2 separate regions of the Homo sapiens genome follow, and region 1 is linked to region 2. The links come from fine-mapping of genetic effects on gene expression. Tissue or cell type: testis. Region 2 holds a variant in brackets; the other region holds the start of a gene. All regions are shown on one strand. Distances are between the middles of the regions.

Region 1 (11,357 bases), 27 kb before region 2:
TGAGACAGAGTATCGCTCAGTCGCCAGGCTGGAGTGCAGTGGCACGATCTCGGCTCACTGCAGCTTCCACCTCCCAGGTTCAAGCGATTCTCCTGCCTCAGCCTCCCAAGTAGCTGGGACTATAGGCTTGTGCCATCATGCCCAGCTAATTTTTGTATTTTTAGTAGAGATGGGGTTTCACCATGTTGGCCAAGCGGTCTCAAACTCCTGACCTCGTGGTATGCCCACCTCGGCCTCCCAAAGTGCTGGGGTTATAGGCGTGAGCCACCACGCCCGGCCAAAATATTTTTTTTTAATGAAAAATAGTGGGGCATGGTAGTGGGTGCCTGTAGTCGCAGCCACTCAGGAGGCTGAGGCAGGAGAATCCCTTGACCCCCGGAGTTCCTGGCAGTATGCTATGATTGTGTCTGTGAGCAGCCACTGCACTCCAGCCTGAACAACATAGTGAGACCTCATTTCTGAAAAAAGGAACATATAAACTTCTAATTTCTTTCTTGTTTCTTCAATTTCTCTTTTCACTTTCTACTTAATGTTTTTCTCCTACTTTTCCTTTGTCTTCTTTGTTCCTCTGCTAATTTTCATCTCAGCAGTGACCTAAATCTGGCTTCCTGTAGGTTAAGCCTTCTTTAACGTATTTGCCATCTGTTCTCATTCTGGCTCTGAAGCACAGGATTTTATCCTCTGGTAATTTTTCATTAAGCTAATCTTTGTACAACTTACAAAATGCTTTTTTAGTTGACAAAGGTCACATTTCATTGTCAGTGCTTATTTTACTATTATGGTACAAACTGAGCTCTTGAGCAAATCTAGATGGCATAAAAATACTATGTGAACTATCTGGCCCACATTTTCAAATATAAAATTTATGCAGGGTCTTTTCCTTTTTTTTTTTTTTTTTTTTTTTTTTGAGAGGGAGTCTCCCTCTGTAGCCCAGGCTGGAGTGCAGAGGTGCGATCTGGGCTCACTGCAGCCTCCCTCTCCCAGGTTCAAGTGATTCTCCTGCCTCAGCCTCCAGATGCTGGAAATACAGGAGTGCGCCACCACGCTCAGCTAATTTTTGTTTTGTTTTTTTTTGAGATGGAGTCTCGCTCTGTCGCCCAGGCTGGAGTGCAGTGGCGCGATCTCGGCTCACTGCAAGCTCCACCACCCAGGTTCACGCCATTCTCCTGCCTCAGCCTCCCGAGTAGCTGGGACTACAGGCGCCTGCCACCGCGCCCGGCTAATTTTTTGTATTTTTAGTAGAGACGGGGTTTCACGGTGTTAGCCAGGATGGTCTGGATCTCCTGACCTTGTGATCCACCCGTCTCGGCCTCCCAAAGTGCTGGGATTACAGGCGTGAGCCACCGCGCCTGGCCTGTATTTTCAGTAGAGACGGGTTTTCGCCATGTTGTCCCGGCTGGTCTCGAACTCCTGACCTCAAGTGATCCACCCGCCTCTGCCTCCCAAACTGTTGGGATTACAGGAGTGAGCCACTGCACCTGGCTTGTTTGGTTTTTCTTTTGTTTTTGAGATGGAGTCTTGCCCTGTCGCCAGGCTGGAGTGCAGTGGTGCCATCTCCACACACTGCAACCTCCGACTCCCTGGTGCAAGCTAATCTACTTCCTCAGCCTCCTGAGTAGCTGGGATTATAGGCAGGCACCACCAAGCCCAGCTAATTTTTGTATTTTTAGTAGAGACGGGGTTTCACCATGTTGGCCAGGATGGTCTCAATCTCCTGACATCATGGTCCACTCGCCTCAACCTCCCAAAGTGCTGGGATTACAGGAGTGAGCCACCGCACCTGGCCTTTTTTTTTTTTTTTTTTTTTTTACAGGGTCTCCCTCTGTTGCCCAGGCTGGATTGCAGTGGCGCCATCTCGGCTCACCGCACCCTCCACTGCCCGGATCTAATCCATCTTCCCACCTCACCCTCCCGGATAGCTGGGATTACAAGTATGCGCCACCACGTCTGGCTAATTTCTTTGTATTTTTAGTAAGACAGATTCTGCCATGTTGGTCAGGCTGGTCTTGAATTCCTGGCCTCAAGTCATTGGCTGCCTTAACCTCCCAAAGTGCTAGGATTACAGATGCGAGCCACCATGCCAGGCCTCAGGGGACCTTTGTATTTTAACTTTTTTTTTTTTTTTTTGAGCTGGAGTCTCGCTTCGTTGCCCAGGCTGGGGTGCAGTGGCAAGATCTCGGTTCACTGCAACCTCCACCTCCATGATTCGCCCACCTCGGCCTCCCAAAGTGCAGGGATTATAGGCATGAGCCACAGCACCTGACCTGAAATTTCTGTTTTTTTTTTTTTTTTTTGAGACAGAGTTCTGCTCTGTCGCCCAGGCTGGAGTGCAGTGGCGCAATCTCGGCTCACTGCAACCTCCGCCTCCCCGGTTCAAGTGATTCTCCTGCTTCAGCCTCCAGAGTAGCTGGGATTACAGGCACTCACAACCACGCGCAGCTAATTGTTTTTGTATCTTTAGTAGAGACAGGGTTTCACCATGTTGGCCAGGCTGGTTTCAAACTCCTGACCTTAGGTGATCCACCCACTTCGGCCTCCCAAAGTTCTGGGATTACAGGTGTGAGCCACCAAGCCTGGCCAATGACTGAAATTTCTTTTTGTTTTTTTTTGAGATGGAGTTTTGCTCTTGTTGCCCAGGCTGGAGTGCAATGGTGCAGTCTCGGCTCACTGCAACCTCCGCCTCTGGGGTTCAAGTGATTCTCACTGCCTCAGCCTGGTGAGTAGCTGGGATTACAGGTGCCTGCCACCACGCCCAGCTAATGTTTGTATTTTTAGTAGAGATGGGATTTCACCATGTTGGTCAGGCTGGTCTCGAATTCTTGACCTCAGGTGATCCACCCACCTCAGCCTCCCAAAGTGCTGGGATTGCAGGTGTGAGCCACCGTGCCCGGCCTGAAATTTCTTTAACACAGAACAAAGTCTTACTGTCTACATTGAGAAGTACATTAAGCCTAGTGGAAAAAGTATCACGTAAATTCACTCCAAGATGTAATGAGAATGTTAAGGGAAACTGGTTGCCTGAAAGAGGTAGGAGATGTTTTAAAAATTAACAAAAGTCAGCCGGGAATGGTGGCTCACGCCTGTAATACCAGCACTGTGGGAGGCTAAGGCGGGTGAATCACCTGAGGTCAGGAGGTCAAGACCAGCCAGGCCAACATAGTGAAACCTCATCTCTACTAAAAATACAAAAAATTAGCTGGGTGTGGTGGCGGGTGCCTGTAATCCCAGCCACTAGGGAGACTGAGGCAGGAGAATCTCTTGAACCCGGGAGGCAGAGGTTGCAGTGAGCCAAGATTGTGCCATTGCACACCAGCCTGGGCAACAAGAGCAAAACTCCGTCTCAAAAAAAAAAAAAAAAAAAAATTAACAAAAGTCAGAGGTTCAGAAAAGAGAACACGATTATCAAACACAAACTTGGCTTACTTCAAAATTAATTTTGTCCTGCACTGTCTCTGGCTAGAGCATCTTAAAAAAGGACAGAAAATCCCAGATTTATCAAGAAATAGCTTGGGCAAGAAGCAACCTTAAGTGCATAAAAGCCCAGCTTTTAAATTTTATAAATCTGTCATTTAAACCTGGTAAAATATTATATTGAATTTTCCTCTCTTCACTGGGAAATGTATGTGTCCTGGATACTTTCTCTACTTCCTAATTGTCTCCCTAGCTTTATTTTATTTTATTTTATTTTATTATTTCATGGGATTTAGAGGAAGTCACATGGGGCCCATTAACTATGTGTTCATCCTCCTGGAAATCCCCGAACCTCATGCCAATAACCAGAATGGAGCTTTCTCAATGCACCCATTCAGTGCATTAAAGAGAGGATTTAGGCCAGTCGTGGTGGCTCAGGCCTGTAATCCCAGCACTTTGGGAGGCCAAGGTAGGTGGATCACCTGAGGTCGGGAGTTCGAGACCAGCCTGACCAACATGGAGAAACCTTGTCTCTAGTAAAAATACAAAATTAGCTGGGCGTGGTGGCGCATGCCTGTAATCCCAGCTACTCAGGAGGCTGAGGCAGGAGAATTGCTTGAACCCGGGAGGCAGAGGTTGCAGTGAGCCGAGATCGCACCATTGCACTCCTGCCTAGGTAACAAGAGCGAAACTGCATCTCAAAATAAATAAATAAATAAAGAGGATTTTATGTAACAATTGAGACCGTATTCCACTTAATATATAATATGAATGCAGTGACCAGCCTTGCAGAATTTTTAAGAACATTTAATTTTCTTATATCAAATCCTATTGCTTCATAATTACATCCCAAAGTTTGGTTTCAAAACGGTGGTCACGGTGAAATGGAAGATATACATTCTCTTACTCGAAAGCACTGGCACATGTGGACTGAATAGGCATGTTGATCCCACCAACGGTGCAGTGTTTGTTCTCTTCAAAGGGATCTCAGGGCTTCAGAACAACTCCCACTGTTGTTGCCCTTCAGATAAAGATTTAAAGAATATCGGCCGGGCGCGGTGGCTCAAGCCTGTAATCCCAGCACTTTGGGAGGCCAAGGCGGGCAGATCACCTGAGGTCAGGAGTTCGAGACCAGCCTCAACATTGAGAAACTCCATCTCTACTAAAAATACAAAGTGAGCTGGCTGTGGTGGTGCATGCCTGTAATCCCAGCTACTCGGGAGGCTGAGGCAGGAGAATTGCTTGAACCTGGGAGGCAGAGGTTGCGGTGAGCCGAGATCGCGCCATTGCACTCCAGCCTGGGCAACAAGAGTGAAACTCTGTCTCAAAATAAATAAATAAATAAATAAAAGATTTAAAGATCATCCTCTGAATACCAACAAATTTCTTTTAATCTCAAATCCCGCAAATGTGTTCTCAGCTTTAGTTTTAGTTGAGAAGTGGATCTGTTAAGGACCCTTTAAGCTGCTCTTTCTCCAAGTCAAACATGCATAGAGAAAAAGCACAGCCTTCACACACTCTGATCTACAAAGAGTTAACATCTTAAAAGCTAAACAGAACTGGATTAGCTCCTCTTTTAACAAGCCAGAAGGACAAGCTTATTGGAACCTAGAGTACTAAAGGACACCAGAACATTGAGAGAAAAGAATTAGCGACAGCTATCTGGAGCAAGCAAGAACTGTAAGTTTCTATCTGATGCATATTTATAGTTTCCTATGTCTTCCCTAGGGGTGTTTTTGAGAAGAATGAAATAAGTTTATTCTTTTTTTTTTTTTTTTTTTTGAGACAGAGTCTTACTCTGTCGCCCAGGCTGGAGTGCACCGGCACTATCTCTGCTCACTGCAACCTCTGCCTCCCAGGTTCAAGCGATTCTCCTGCCTCAGCCTCCCAAGTAGCTGGGGACTACAGGCATGCGCCACCATTGCCCGGCTAATTTTTGTGTTTTTAGTAGAGACGGGGTTTCACCATGTTTGCCAGGCTGGTCTTGAACTCCTGACCTCAGGTGATTCACCCGCCTCGGCCTCCCAAAGTGCTGGGATTACTGGCATGAGCCACCGCGCCTGGCCTGGTTTATTCATTTTCTATTGTACCACCAGTCTCCCAGGCATCCAGCACAACATTACCAAGTCATCTTTAATCCTGTCACCCTCTTAACTCTATCTCACGTCCAACCAGTTGTCACATCTTTTGATTCTCCTTCCTCAGTGTCTTCATGATCCATCCTATTCTTCCATCCCCCACCCCCCTCCTTCCCTAGTTCAAGACTTCTTGCCTGAACTATAGCAATATCCTCTTAACACTGTTCTCTCCCCAATTTCCAAATCACTAATAGTAGATGAATCTTCCTAATGCTCTTCCATAGCTCTAATTATATTGCTCTTTTGCTCAGAAATGTATCCACTATCTGCAGAATGAATAAAACTCCTTTTCAAATTAATTAATTTTTAATTGACAATTTGAAATTGTATATATTTATTGTGTAAAATTTGTTGCTTTGAAATATATATATAGAGAGAGTGGAAAATGGCTACCTTGGGCTTTTCTTTTTTTTTTTTTTGAGACAGAATCTCTCTCTCTCGTGAGGCTGGAGTGCAGTGGCTCAATCTCGGCTCACTGCAACCTCTGCCTCCTGGGTTCAAACAATTCTCCTGCCTCAACCTCCCGAGTAGCTGGGACTACAGGTGCGCACCACCATGCCCAGCTAATTTTTGCATTTTTAGTAGAGACAGGGTTTTACCATGTTGGCCACGGCCAGGATGGTCTTGATCTCTTGATCTTGTGATCTGCCCGCCTTGGCCTCCCAAAGTGCTGGGATTACGGGCGTGAGCCACCACACCTGCCCAATCTTGGGCTAATTAAAATATGTATTACCTCATATGCTCATCAATTTTTTGTGTTTGATGAGAACACTTAAAAATCTACTCTTGGCCCAGGCGTGTTGGCTCACACCTGTAATCTCAGCATTTTGGGAGGCTGAGGCGGGTGGATCACTTGAGATCAGGAGTTCAAGACCAGTCTGGCCAACATGGCAAAACCCTGTCTCTACTAAGAATAGAAAAATTAGCTGGGCGTGGCGGCTTGCGCCTGTAATTGCAGCTGCCTGGGGGGCTGAGACATGAGAATTGCTTGAACCCTGGAGGCAGAGGTTGCAGTGAGGCGAGAGCATACCGCTGTACTCCAGCCTGGGCAACAGAGTGAGACCTTGTCTCAAAAAAAAAAAAAATAAATAATAATAATAATAATAATAATAATAATAATCAGAGTAAGGGGAACTGGCTACAAAATTTTAAATGCTTGCCCAGTGATACAGAGTGTAAAAAAGAAAAAAAAGAAGTCTGGGCAGGGTGGCTCATGCCTGTAATCCCAGCACGTTGGGAGACCGAGGCTGGCGGATCCCAAGGTCCGGAGTTCGAGACCAGCCTGGCCAAAATTGTGAAATCTTGTCTCTACTAAAAAATACAAAAAATTAGCTGGGCATGGTGGCAGGTGCCTGTAATCCCAGCTACTCTGGAGGCTGAGACAGGAGAATCGCTTGAACCCGGGAAGCGGAGGTTGCAGTAAACTGAGATTGCAACATTGCACTCCAGCCCAGGCAACAATGTGATACTCTGTCTCGAAAAAAGAGGAAAAGAAAATTTTAATTGCTGATGTCATCAAGCTGGCTTTATACGTCTATCCATCTATCACTAGTAAAGGGTTCTTCACCCTCACTAACCTATACTTGTCCAAGTGCACTGCAATTCTGAATATCACTGCAAGGAAATTTTTTTTTTTTTAAGACGGAGTCTTGCTCTGTCACCCGGCTGGAGTGCAGTGGCGTGATCTCACCTCACTGCAATCTCTGCCTCCCAGGTTCAAGCAATTCCCCTGCCTCAGCCTCCTGAGTACCTGGGACTACAGGCACGCACCACCATGCCTGGCTAATTTTTTTGTATTTTAGTAGAGACGGGGTTTCACTATGTTGACCAGGATGGTCTCGATCTCCTGACCTCATGATCAGCCCGCCTCAGCCTCCCATAGTGCTGGGATTACAGGCGTGAGCCACCACGCCGGGTGGAAGTTTCTTCAGTCTTTCATCCTGTTGAGTTCAAAACAATTGATAAACCCTTTTAGAATCTACATTCCATTTTTTTTTTTTTTTTTTTTTTGAGACAGAGTCTCGCTCTGTCTCCCAGGCTGGAGTGCAGTGGCGTGATCTCGGCTCACAGCAAGCTCCGCCTCCCAGGTTCACGCCATTCTCCTGCCTCAGCCTCCCCAGTAGCTGGGACTACAGGCGCGTGCCACCACACCCGGCTAATTTTTTGTATTTTGTAGTAGAGATGGAGTTTCACCACGTTAGCCAGGATAGTCTTGATCTCCTGACCTTGTGATCCACCCATCTCGGCCTCCCAAAGTGCTGGGATTACAGGCGTGAGCCACTGTGCCCGGCCTACATTCCACTTTTTCATTCCTGAGAAATTAAATCTGGCCACTGGATGTTCAACACGCCTTCACTGACAGTCTCAACTGGCTTTTCTTCTCTAGCATTCCAATAAACTCCATTTCATTCTTAGAGCTTCTGTGACTTCAGTTTTAATGATACTTTTCAATTGCTCCATAGTGCCATATAGCATTGGTGGTGCGTCAATGTGCTCTGGGCCCAGATATTAAGAACAACAGCATCCCTTCTACTACAGCTCCATTTTTGCAAATGGCTTCAGGTCCAGAGGACCAAGCTTATGATGCAGTCACCTTTCCTTTTCCTTCACATTACTTTTCTACAGTAGGAAACTAGGAAGGTGGGTGACTAAGTAAACCTGTAGATGCTACTCTATTTATTTTATTTATTATTATTATTTTTTGAGAAGCTGTCTCACACTGTCGCCCAGGCTGGAGTGCAATGGTGTAATCTTGGCTCACTGCAATCTCCGCCTCCTGTGCTCAAGCGATTCTCCTGCTTCAGCCTCCAGAGCAGCTGGGACTACAGGCATGAGCCACTACACCCAGCTAATTTTTGTATTTTTAGTAGAAATGGGGTTTCGCCATGTTAGCCAGGCTGGTCTCAAACTCCTGACCTTGTGATCTGCCCGCCTCGGCCTCCCAAAGTGCTGGGATTACAGGCATGAGCCACTGTGCCCAGCCCCTATATATGGTACTTCAAATGGAGATTTACTTGTAAACTAAATGCAGATTTACTTTTTTTTTTTTTTTAGACAGAGTCTCACTCTGCTTTGCCCAGGCTGGAGTGGAGTGCAGTGGCACGATCTTGGCTCACTGCAATCTCCACCTGCCGGGTTGAAGCGATTCTCCTGCCTCAGCCTCCCGAGTAGCCGGATTACAGGCGCCTGTCACCATGCCCAGCTAACTTTTGTCATGTGGCTGGGCTAGTCTCGAACTCCTGGCCGCAGGTGATCCATCCGCCTCAGCCTCCCAAAGTGTTGGGATTATAAACGTGAGCCACCGTGCCTGGCCTGAGATTTACTTGTAATCCTAGGTCTAACATGCGAAAGTACTTAAACTTTGGGGTGATTATTCAGCTTTCTTAAAATAGGCATGCTATGAAATCTGTATAGATCTATTTAAGACTATGACATTGGAAAGATGCTCTCCATTTATTGTGATTTTTAAAAATGAAATGTTACAGAACAGAGTATGAATTATCCAATTCAAGTTAAATTGCCCGGAAAGCAGATCAATACAATGTTTACATTTTCTCTAGGTGATAGAATTTCTCCATTATACTTTTTGCTTTCTTCTTTATATTTCTCTGTTTGTTCAAAATAAGCTTCTGAACACCCTTCTCCAGTTGACAAGTCAAGCTAGCTTCAACAAAAAGGGAGAATTTGTTGTATAGGGCACAAGACTCTACTATAGAACCTAAAGGTAGGAACAGAGCCAGACAGTGGCATTTATGGAAATAGGGAAAGACTGGGAAACAATCAGACTGGTAAGAGAAATTACAATTCCTCTTTGGGAAAGGTGAGTTTCAGTTGTCTAGTATGTTTACTAGGGGAAACATTTGAAAGGGGAAATGTTTAAAAAGAATTTGTACAAATCTGAAAGTCAAGGCTGGAGAACTAAATTTTTTTTTTTTTTTTTTTTGAAGATGGAATCTCTCTCTTGTCACCCAGGCTGGAGTACAGTGGCACGATCTCTGCTCACTGCATCCTCCGCCTCCCGGGTTCAAACTATTCTCCTGCTTTAGACTCCTGAGTAACTGGGATCACTCTGTCGTGGCACATGTCACCGCGCCCAGCAAATTTTTGTATGTTTAGTAGAGACAGGGTTTCACCATGTTGGCCAAGCTGGTCTTGAACTCCTGACCTCAGATGATTTGCCCGCCTCAGCCTCCCAAAGTACTGCGAATACAGGCGTGAACCACTGCTCCCAGCTGAGACATAAATTTTGGAGACAAAACTGGAAAAGACTGGAATCAAGAACAGAATGCTTTAAGAACTTTTTGACTCACTTCAGTCCCTCAGTGTCATTCTCTCTCTTGTTCGTTCATTCTACTTTTCATACATTCGGTGTTTATTTGTTGAGTACCTGCTATGTGCCAATAACTGTTCGGGTACTGCATCTATAGAGGTAAACAAGATAAACCATTTTTCTGCCTTCAAAGTCACTATGTTTTAGTGAGAGGGGACAGACAATAAACTAGTATAAATAAATGAAGGTAGTTTCTGTGTATAGTAAATGTCACAAGGGAAATAAACAGGGTGAGGTGACAGAGTATAAGACTGGTAAGAGAAGGGGAAGTGCTCAGTTCAGCTACCAAAGTCAGAGAAAGGCCTCCTGGCAAATGAAAAGATGCTTGAGAGACCAAAGGATCAGATGGAGTCAGCCAAATAAAGAGCAAGAAGGAGGCCAGGTGCAGTGGCTCAAGCCTGTAATCCCAGCACTTTGGGAGGCCAAGGCAGGCAGATCACAAGATCAGGAGATCAAGACCATCTTGGCTAACATGGTGAGACCCCGTCTCTACTAAAAACACAAAAAATTAGCCGGGCATGGTGGCACGTGCCTGTAGTCCGAGCTACTCAGGAGGCTGAGGCAGGAGAATCACTTGAACTCGGGAGGTGGAGGTTACAGTGAGCTGAGATCGCGCCACTGCACTCCAGCCTGGGTGACAGAGTGAGACTCCATCTCCAAAAAAAAAAAAAAGAGCAAGAAAGAGCTTGATGGTTGGGAGAGCAAAGAGAGGGCAAGTGGTGAGGAGTGTTGTGAGCTAGAGGAAGGAAGGTACAAGGTGTGATTGGAGGAATAAGAAGCGGATCAGCTGAGGTTGGGCTTTACAGGCCCTGGAAAAAAAGTGTAAATTTTACTTTAAGTGTAATGAAAAGCCATTTGGAGACTTTTGGCAAAGAAATGTTATGAACTGGGTTGTTTTATACAGGTCACTCTGGGTGTTTCAGGCAGAAATAAGGGAGGATGGGAGAGGAAAATGGGGAGAGCATTAAAAAATGTGGTAGTTGAGGAAAGAGACACAGATCACTTGAATTTTAGTGGCGGAGACAGGCTAATATATGTTGTTTTTGTCTGTGTTTGTTTTTTAGACAGTTTTGCTCTTGTTGCCCAGGCTGGAGTGCAATGGCACAATTTCAGCTCACTGCAACCTCCGCCTTCCAGGTTCAAGCAATTCTCCTGCCTCAGCCTCCTGAGTAGCTGCGATTAAAGGCACCCGCCACCACGCCCGGCTAATTTTTTGTATTTTTAGTGGAGACAGGGTTTCACCATGTTGGCCAGGCTGGTCTTGAACTCCTGACCTCGGGCGATCCGCCCGCCTCAACCTCCCAAAGTGCCGGGGTTACAGGCATGAGCCACTGCACCTGGCTGATACATGTTTTAAAGGAAGAACCTGGAGAACATGCTAATGGGTGAGGGAAAGGGAGGAATCAAAGCTGCAGGATTGGTAGGACGGTAGTGGCATTTATGGACCTAGGGAAAGACTGGGAAAAGATGAGACTGGT
Region 2 (8,000 bases):
GACCAGCCTGGCCAACGTGGTGAAACCCCGTCTGTACTAAAAATACAAAAAAACTAGCCAGGTATGGTGGCCGGTGCCTGTAATCCCAGCTACTCAGGAGGCTGAGGCAGGAAAATCCCTTGAACCTGGGAGGCGGAGGTTGCAGTGAGCCGAGATTGCACCATTGCACTCCAGCCTGGGCAACAAGAGCAAAACTCTGTCAAAAAAAAAAAAAAGAGGAAAGAAGGAAGGAGGGAGGGAGGGAAGGAAGGAAGGAAGGGAGGGAGGAAGGAGAGAGAGAAAGAAAGAAAGAAAGAAAGAAAGAAAGAAAGAAAGAAAGAAAGAAAGAAAGAAATTAACCTAAAGGAGATAAGTTTATGTATAAAAGGATATTTGCTGCCTCACTATATAGAAGGAAAACGACTTCATCCTCATCACCAGATAGGGATTCTTAGCCCTCTCTGTGCATAAATTCCTGGAAAACTTTTTTAAAAATGTATTTTTCAGACAAGTTTTAGTTTTATAGCAAAATTAAGCAGGAAATAGAGTTCCTGTATACCCATTGCCTCCATACACACACAGCCTCCCCAACTATCAGCACCCCGTACCAGAGTGGTGCATTTGTTACAATCAGTGAAACTACATTGACACATCATTATCACCTGACCATCATTTAATAGTTTACATTAGGGTTCATTCTTGGTGTTGTACATTCTTTTTTTTTTTTTGAGATGGAGTCTCGCTCAGTTGCCCAGGCTGGAGGGCAGTGGCGTGATCTCGGCTCACTGCAAGCTCTGCCTCCTGGGTTCATGCCGTTCTCCTGCCTCAGCCTCCTGAGTAGCTGGGACTACAGGCGCCCGCCACCATGCCCGGCTAATTTTTTTGTATTTTTAGTAGAGACGGGGTTTCACCATGTTAGCCAGGATGGTCTCGATCTCCTGACCTCGTAATCCGCCTGTCTCAGCTTCCCAAAGTGCTGGGATTACAGGCGTAAGCCACTGCGCCTGGCCGGTGTTGTACATTCTATGGGTTTTGACAAATGTGTAAGGACATGTATCCATCATTATAGCATCATACAGAATAGCTTTACTCCCCCAAAAGTCCTCTGTGTTCCACCTAGTCATGTCTTTTACCTCCAGTCCTGGCAACCACTGATCTTTTTACTGTCTCCAGTTTTGCCTCTTCTAGAATGTCATATAGTTGGGATTACACAGTATGTGGCCTTTTCAAATTGGCTTCTTTCACTTAGTAATATGCATTTAAGCTTGCTCCATGTCTTTTAAGGTTTGAAAGCTCATTTTTTCAAAACACCAAATAACATTCGATTGTCTACATGTACCAGTTTATTTATCCATTCAGCTACCGAAAGATGTCTTAGTTGCTTCCAAGTTTTGGCAATTATGAATAAAGCTGCTATTAACATTATGTGTCGTTTTTTGTATGGATATAAGTTTTCAACCTGGAGATATTTTAAAACCACAGATCCAGGCCGGGTGCGGTGGCTTATGCCTGTAATCCCAGTACTTTGGGAGGCCAAGGTGGGTGGATCATTTGTGGTCAGGAGATCGAAAACAGCCTGGCCAACATGGTGAATCCCCATCTTTACTGAAAATACCAAAATTAGCCGGGTGTGATGGCTCATGCCTGTAATTCCAGCTACTTGGGAGGCTGAGGCAGGCGAATAGCTTGAACCCGAGAGGCAGGGGTTGCACTGGGCCAAGATTATGCTACTGCACTCCAGCCTGGGCAACAGAGCAAGACTCTGTCTCAAAAACAAAACAAAACAAAACAAAAAAAGACCATAACAGATCCCTGGGCCCCATCTCTGAGATTCCCTTTCAATTATTTGGGGGGTAGAATTCAGGCAGTGTAATTTTAAGATCTCTCCAGGTTATTCTAATCAGCAGCTAGACAGGGAATCAATGAGATAGAGTGGAGTGAACCCAAATCCTCCCCAGTATCTCTTTCAATCTTTCAAACAATAAAGAAAACGTGAGCTCCTAGGTTCAGGAATAATAGTCTTTTTTTTTTTTTTTTTTTTTTTTTTTTTTTTTTTTTGAGACAGAGTCTCACTTTGTTGCCCAGGCTGAAGTGTAGTGGCACCTTGTCAGCTCACTGCAATCTCCATCTTCCGGGTTCAAGCAAATTCTCCTGCCTCAGCCTCCTGAGTAGCTGGGATTACAGGCACCCACCACCACACCTGGCTAATTTTTATATTTTTAGTAGAGAGGGGGTTTCACCATGTTGGCCAGGCTGGTCTCGAACTCCTGACCTCAGGTGATTCGCCTTCCTCGACCTCCCAAAGTGCTGGGATTACAGGCGTGAGCCCCTGCGCCCAGCCTAATCTTCTTTCTATTATTTTATTTTATTTTATTTTTATTTTCCGAGACAGAGACTCACTCTGTCACCCAAGCTGGAGTGCAGTGGCGAGATCTCAGCTCACTGTAATCTCCACCTCCCAGGTTCAAGTGATTCTCCTGCCTCAGCCTCCCGAGTAGCTGGGACTACAGGTGTGCGCCACCATGCCCAGCTAATTTTTGTATTTTTAGTAGAGACGGGGTTTCACCACGTTGGCCAGGATGGTCTTAATCTCTTGACCTCGTGATCCACCCGCCTCAGCCTTCCAAAGTGCTGGGATTATAAGCGTGAGCCACCGTGCCGGGTGTATTTTACTATTATTATTATTATTATCATTATTTTTTGAGACAGTCTCACTCTGTTGTCGCCAGGCTGGAGTGCAGTGGTGCAATCTCGGCTCACTGCAACCTCCCCCTCCCAGGTTCAAGCAATTCTCCTGCTTCAGCCTCCTGAGTAGCTGGGACTACAGGTGCGCACCACCACACCCAGCTAATTTTTGTATTTTTAGTAGAGATGGGGTCTCACTATGTTGGCCAGGATGGTCTCAATCTCTTGACCTCGTGATCTGCCCGCCTCAACTTCCCAAAGTGTTGGGATTACAGGCCTGAGCCACCGCACTCGGCCACTATTGTTATTTTTTGAGACAGAATCTCACTCTGTTGCCTAAGCTGATTTCAGCTCACTGCAACCTCCGCCTCCCGCAGTTCAAGCGATTCTCTTGCCCAGTGTCCATAGCTGGGATGACAGGCTTATGCCACCACACCCATCTGACTTTTGTGTTTTTAGTAAAGACAAGGTTTTGCCATGTTGCCCAGGCTGGTCTCCAACTCCTGACCTCAGGCCATCTGCCCGCCTCAGCCTCCCAAAGTGCTGGGATTATAGGCGTGAGCCACGGTGCCTGGTTCATAATCTTCTTTTTAAGTTTTCTAGCACGTTCAAACCTCACTGGTTTCTCTAAGGAAACGGCTGAGACCTAGCTTGACATTGCAAGGTTTGTGGGAAATTATGAACACCATCATTTAAAAAAGTAGTTATTATCTTTTCTCATAACATAAGCTTAAGGTTAGTGATCTCTATCAAATCTTGGCTGGCGTGATGAGAAATGGGAGAAAGGAGATTATTTACTAGACTGTACATACACCACATACTTGTGTTCTAGTGTGGGTAAGACGGGAAGGCAAGAGACAAGAGGGAGGTATTCTTACTAGGGCATAGTCAAGGAGAAAATGTCTTTAATTCTATCCATGTTCAGACAGAATAATTTAGCGCCTTTCTCTGCAGAGCTTCCATTAAAGAGAAGGTAGAGCTGATTCGACTTAAGAAGCTCTTACATGAAAGAAATGCTTCATTGGTTATGACAAAAGCACAATTAACAGAAGTTCAAGAGGTGAGTTGCCATCATCAGCTGTGCTTTCTTGGTGGGGGGAAACCCCAATTAAGAGATTCATATTATTTTCTCCATTTTAAATATGAGAAGCCACAATTCAGAAAGACAATTTATAAGTGATATCACACAATTTATAAGTGATATTCAAATCCAAGCCTCACAACTCGGAGTCTATGCTTTTCCCAGTATTTCCCATTAGTTCTCTATTAAGAGGAAGGCTCAAGCTCTGCCTGCTAAGGTGAAATAAAGTGGAGTTAACTTGTGTAAGGGTTACGGTCCCCTACGAAGACCACAACCAGAATGTGATTAAATTAGGAAGCCAAAAGCAGTCACAGGGAAGGGAAGGAAACTAGCCTTTTAATTAGCACTTTCTGTGAGCTGTACTCTGTCCCAGATATTTACAGTCATGATCTTTTTTAAGCCTGACAACAGCCCTCAAGGTAAGTATATTTAGCATTAGCACACATTAGAAACTAACATCTGATTGGTGGAAATAGAGTATCAAGGGTCAAAGTAAGGTCAGC[A/C]CCATCCTTTTATTGAACAAATATTTATCCAGTACCAGGAATTGCAAAGCACTGGGATACAAAGATTCCAAGGGTAAGTAAGAAAAAACTGCCTTCAAGGAGTTTATAGGAGTGAGAAAACAAGTAAACAAATTCAACTATCCTATGCAGGGTATGGGCAGGACACAAAAGAGAGAGTAGTCAGACCCACCAGTGGGTGAGGTGCTGATATGGCTGATAAGTGGAGGAACACCAGGGCTCTTGTCTCACGCGAATTAGATAAAACGACACGGACACAGGTGGAGCGGCTTTAAGGAGCGGAGAGTTTAATAGGCAAGAAACAAGGGAGAAGAAAGACGGAAGAAGCTCCCCTGTACTGAGACAGAGGGAGAAGGACTCCAAAGCAGAGAGGGGAGACCTCATGTGCCGGGAAAAGTGGCTGCTTATATGAGTAGGCAGGAGGAGGTAGTGTCTGATTTGCATAGGGCTCAGGGGATTGGTTTGACCAGGCATGTCACTCATGTAGCCTGTGGAAAAAACTGGCCCTCCTACCCTAGTCTTTTAATATGCAAATGAAGGGCGCCATGATGTTCTACACACGTGGGGATATGTGGGGGTGGCCATGTTGCCAGGTACAGGTCGGGGAAAGGACAGGAAGACAAGGGCGGGAATCGCCATGTTTGGGTGGACCCAGTTTCTAAAGACCTGTATTTGCATATCAAAGGTTGCCTTCCCGGCTGTAAGAGCCAGGGCTTTCCTGCTAGACAAAAAACGTTTCTGGAGCTGCTTTAAAGGACGAGAAAACTTTCCAAGGACCCCTTTTCCTCTCTATCTGCCTAAAATTATTTTTAATAACTCCTTTAACAGTGCCAGATCAGAAAAGGATTAATGACTGGGTGCGGTGGCTGGAGCCTGTAATCCCAGCACTTTGGGAGGTCAAGGAGGGAGGATCACTTGAGCTCAGGAATTCGAGACCAGCCCAGACAACATGGCGAAACCCCATCTCTATCAAAAATAGAAAAATTAGACAGGCATCGTGATGTGTGCCTGTAGTCCTAGCTACTATGGAGGCTGAGGCAGGAGGATTGCTTGAGTGCTTGAGCCCAGGAGGCAGAGGTTGCAGTGAGCCGAGATCCCGATACGGCACCTCAGCGTGAGACTTTGTCTCAAAAAAAGAAAAAAGAAAAGGATTAATAAAGGAATAGATTTGTGAGTTAAATACTGAAATACTAAAAGATTAGCTTGTGTTAATAAGTGTGTAAGAGAAGAGGGGGCTTTCCATGAGAGCAGAGGTGAGAAACATCAGGTCTGGTCATGAAGGACACACTAAGAATTTTTTTTCTCGTTGTCATTAAAGACAGAACATGCTAGGAATTTAGACTTTATCCTACAAACAGCAGAGAGCTATGTGAAAGGGTTTTAAGCAAGTTGATATGATCAATTTTTTTCTCTCTCAAGATTATTTGACCTTTTTTAAAAAATAAAAAATAAATTTAAAAAAAAAGTTTGGGAGGCTGAGGTGGGTGGATCGCTTGAGGTCAGGAGTTTGAGACCAGCCTGGCCAACATGGTGAAACCCCGTCTCTACTAAAATACAAAAATTAGGTGTGGTGGGGGGCACCTGTAATCTCAGCTACTTGGGAGGTTGAGGAAGGAGAATTGCTTGAACCTGGGAAGCCGAGGTTGCAGTGAGCCAAGATTGTGCCGCAGCACTCCAGCCTGGGCAACAGAGTGAGACTGTCTCAAAAACAAAAACGAAAACTTACCTCTCATATTTGCTACAAGGATTAAATGAGATAATATGTGTGAAATGATTATAATGATCATGATGTGGCAGGTAATGAAACACATAGTAACACATAGCAACTACTCAACTAATTATAGCTGTTGTTATGATCATTCTTTTTTTTTTACTAAAACTGAAGAGATCTTTCTGAAGTGTGCTAAGTAACAGTACCTAATTTAAGATTAAACATTTTTCTTGGATAATCCACCAAGTACAATGCAAATGTTAATAAATGACCCTTCATTCTTTTTTGAGAAATGGTGTGAATGATTGCAGTCACAGACTACTTGGCAAGCTAGGGCAGGGGAAAAATAGCAACAATTAGTAAACAAGTACACAAATTGATTTGTTTTGTGGGATTTTTATAATGTCTTTAAAAATGTTAAGCATTATATTACAGTGATAAATATATCATGAAATTGATAAATCAATAAAATAATAATAATTTCTTTCTTCCAGGCATACGAAACCTTGCTCCAGAAGGTACTTAATGAGAATTGAGTCTCTGTTTCTTAGTAACCAGAATAATCAAACCCAAAGAAATCTATGTTCATCTCCAAGTAACATAACACCAGAATTTAGCTAACTAAATCAATGTTATTATGTCATATAGTTTCTGTTAAAAATGATACTATTATGATTATCAAAAGATACAGATACTTATTGCACTGTTTTCATAAAAATTGAAATATGAAATTGTAGTTGAGAAATATTTGGCATGGTATTTTTAAGCCTATTGCTGGAGCAAATTATAGCATTTGCTCAAAACTTCCTAAGAGTATTCTTCTAGCATGTGTGAGGTGATGAGATATAACAAAGTTGTTGCAGGTATTCTCAGATGGTCTTAAATATTTGGCCCTATTCACCACTGTGAGTGGGCTGCATGTGAAGCTAGGTGAATGTCTGTGCTTAAGAATCACCACTAAGACAGAGTTCCAAACGAGACCACCCAGCTGTGCCTCACCAGAGGAGTCCGCCAGAAACACACACAGAACTTCTGGAGTTAACATGTCACTTGTCTAGGTACAAACGTAGTCATCATAAAAAAGCAGTCAAATAGCTTAGAAAGTGAAGGCAGCTTTGGAAGGTGGCAACTAATTTAAAGCTAGGGATTAATTTGAACCTTGAGAAAATTAAGGCTCAAGGGCCAGGCGCGGTGGCTCACGCCTGTAATCCCAGCACTTGGGGAGGCGGAGGCGGGTGGATGACCTAAGGTCAGGAGTTCGAGACCAGCCTGGCCAACATGGAGAAACCCTGTCTCTATTAAAAATACAAAAATTAGCTGGGCGTGGTGGCTCATGCCTGTAATCCCAGCTACTCAGGAGGCTGAGGCAGGAGAATTGCTTGAACCCGGTAGGCAGAGGTTGCAGTGAGCCAAGCACTATTGCACTCCAGCCTGGGCAACAGAGCGAGACTGTCTCAATAAATAAATAAATAAATAAATACAAGAAAAGAAAATTAAAGCTCAAATGATGAACTACAATTGCCCAGAATGGAAACCCTACCTACCAGGGAAATTATACTTCCAGAGAAATGCTAGGGTGAAAAACAAGGTTAACGAACAGTACAAAGGTAATAAGCTATTAATCAAAGTCATTCTTTGTGACATCTGTTAGAGAATGCTAGGGTTGCTGGTGTCTGGAGACCACTCGTGCTGAGTGATATGACCATTCCCAGAGGTACTTTCCTTTTGACCCAGAATCAGGGAATCCTGAGTGCAGCCCATGAGGCCCTCCTCAAGCAAGTGAATGAGCTCAGGGCAGAGCTGAAGGAAGAAAGCAAGAAGGCTGTGAGCTTGAAGAGCCAACTGGAAGATGTGTCTATCTTGCAGATGACTCTGAAGGAGGTAAATAATAATAGTTGAAAGATACCATCTACATTTCAACTTCAGGGATGTTAGAATGTGTATCTTAGCAACAATATGAGTATTGCATTTTTTCAAATGACAAAAACGAAGCTCCGAGTAGTTAAATCATTTGCTTAAGATT

The links. PIP is the estimated chance that this variant, and not a neighbour inherited with it, causes the effect.
Region 1: RPGRIP1 starts here. The variant in region 2 is fine-mapped to the expression of RPGRIP1 in testis (GTEx, PIP 0.97).

Annotation. Positions count from the first base shown.
Region 1 is chr14:21,275,069-21,286,425 of GRCh38, forward strand. RPGRIP1 (RPGR interacting protein 1) reads left to right here and starts at 5,015. Exons shown (of 25, transcript NM_020366.4): 1 at 5,015-5,091.
Region 2 is chr14:21,304,113-21,312,112 of GRCh38, forward strand. RPGRIP1 (RPGR interacting protein 1) reads left to right here. Exons shown (of 25, transcript NM_020366.4): 7 at 3,619-3,724; 8 at 6,472-6,495; 9 at 7,712-7,858. Among named protein-coding and RNA genes, the nearest start is that of RPGRIP1, 28 kb to the left of the region's middle. RefSeq lists enhancers at 4,772-5,299, 5,122-5,281. The variant A/C (reference allele first, on the strand shown) is at 4,249.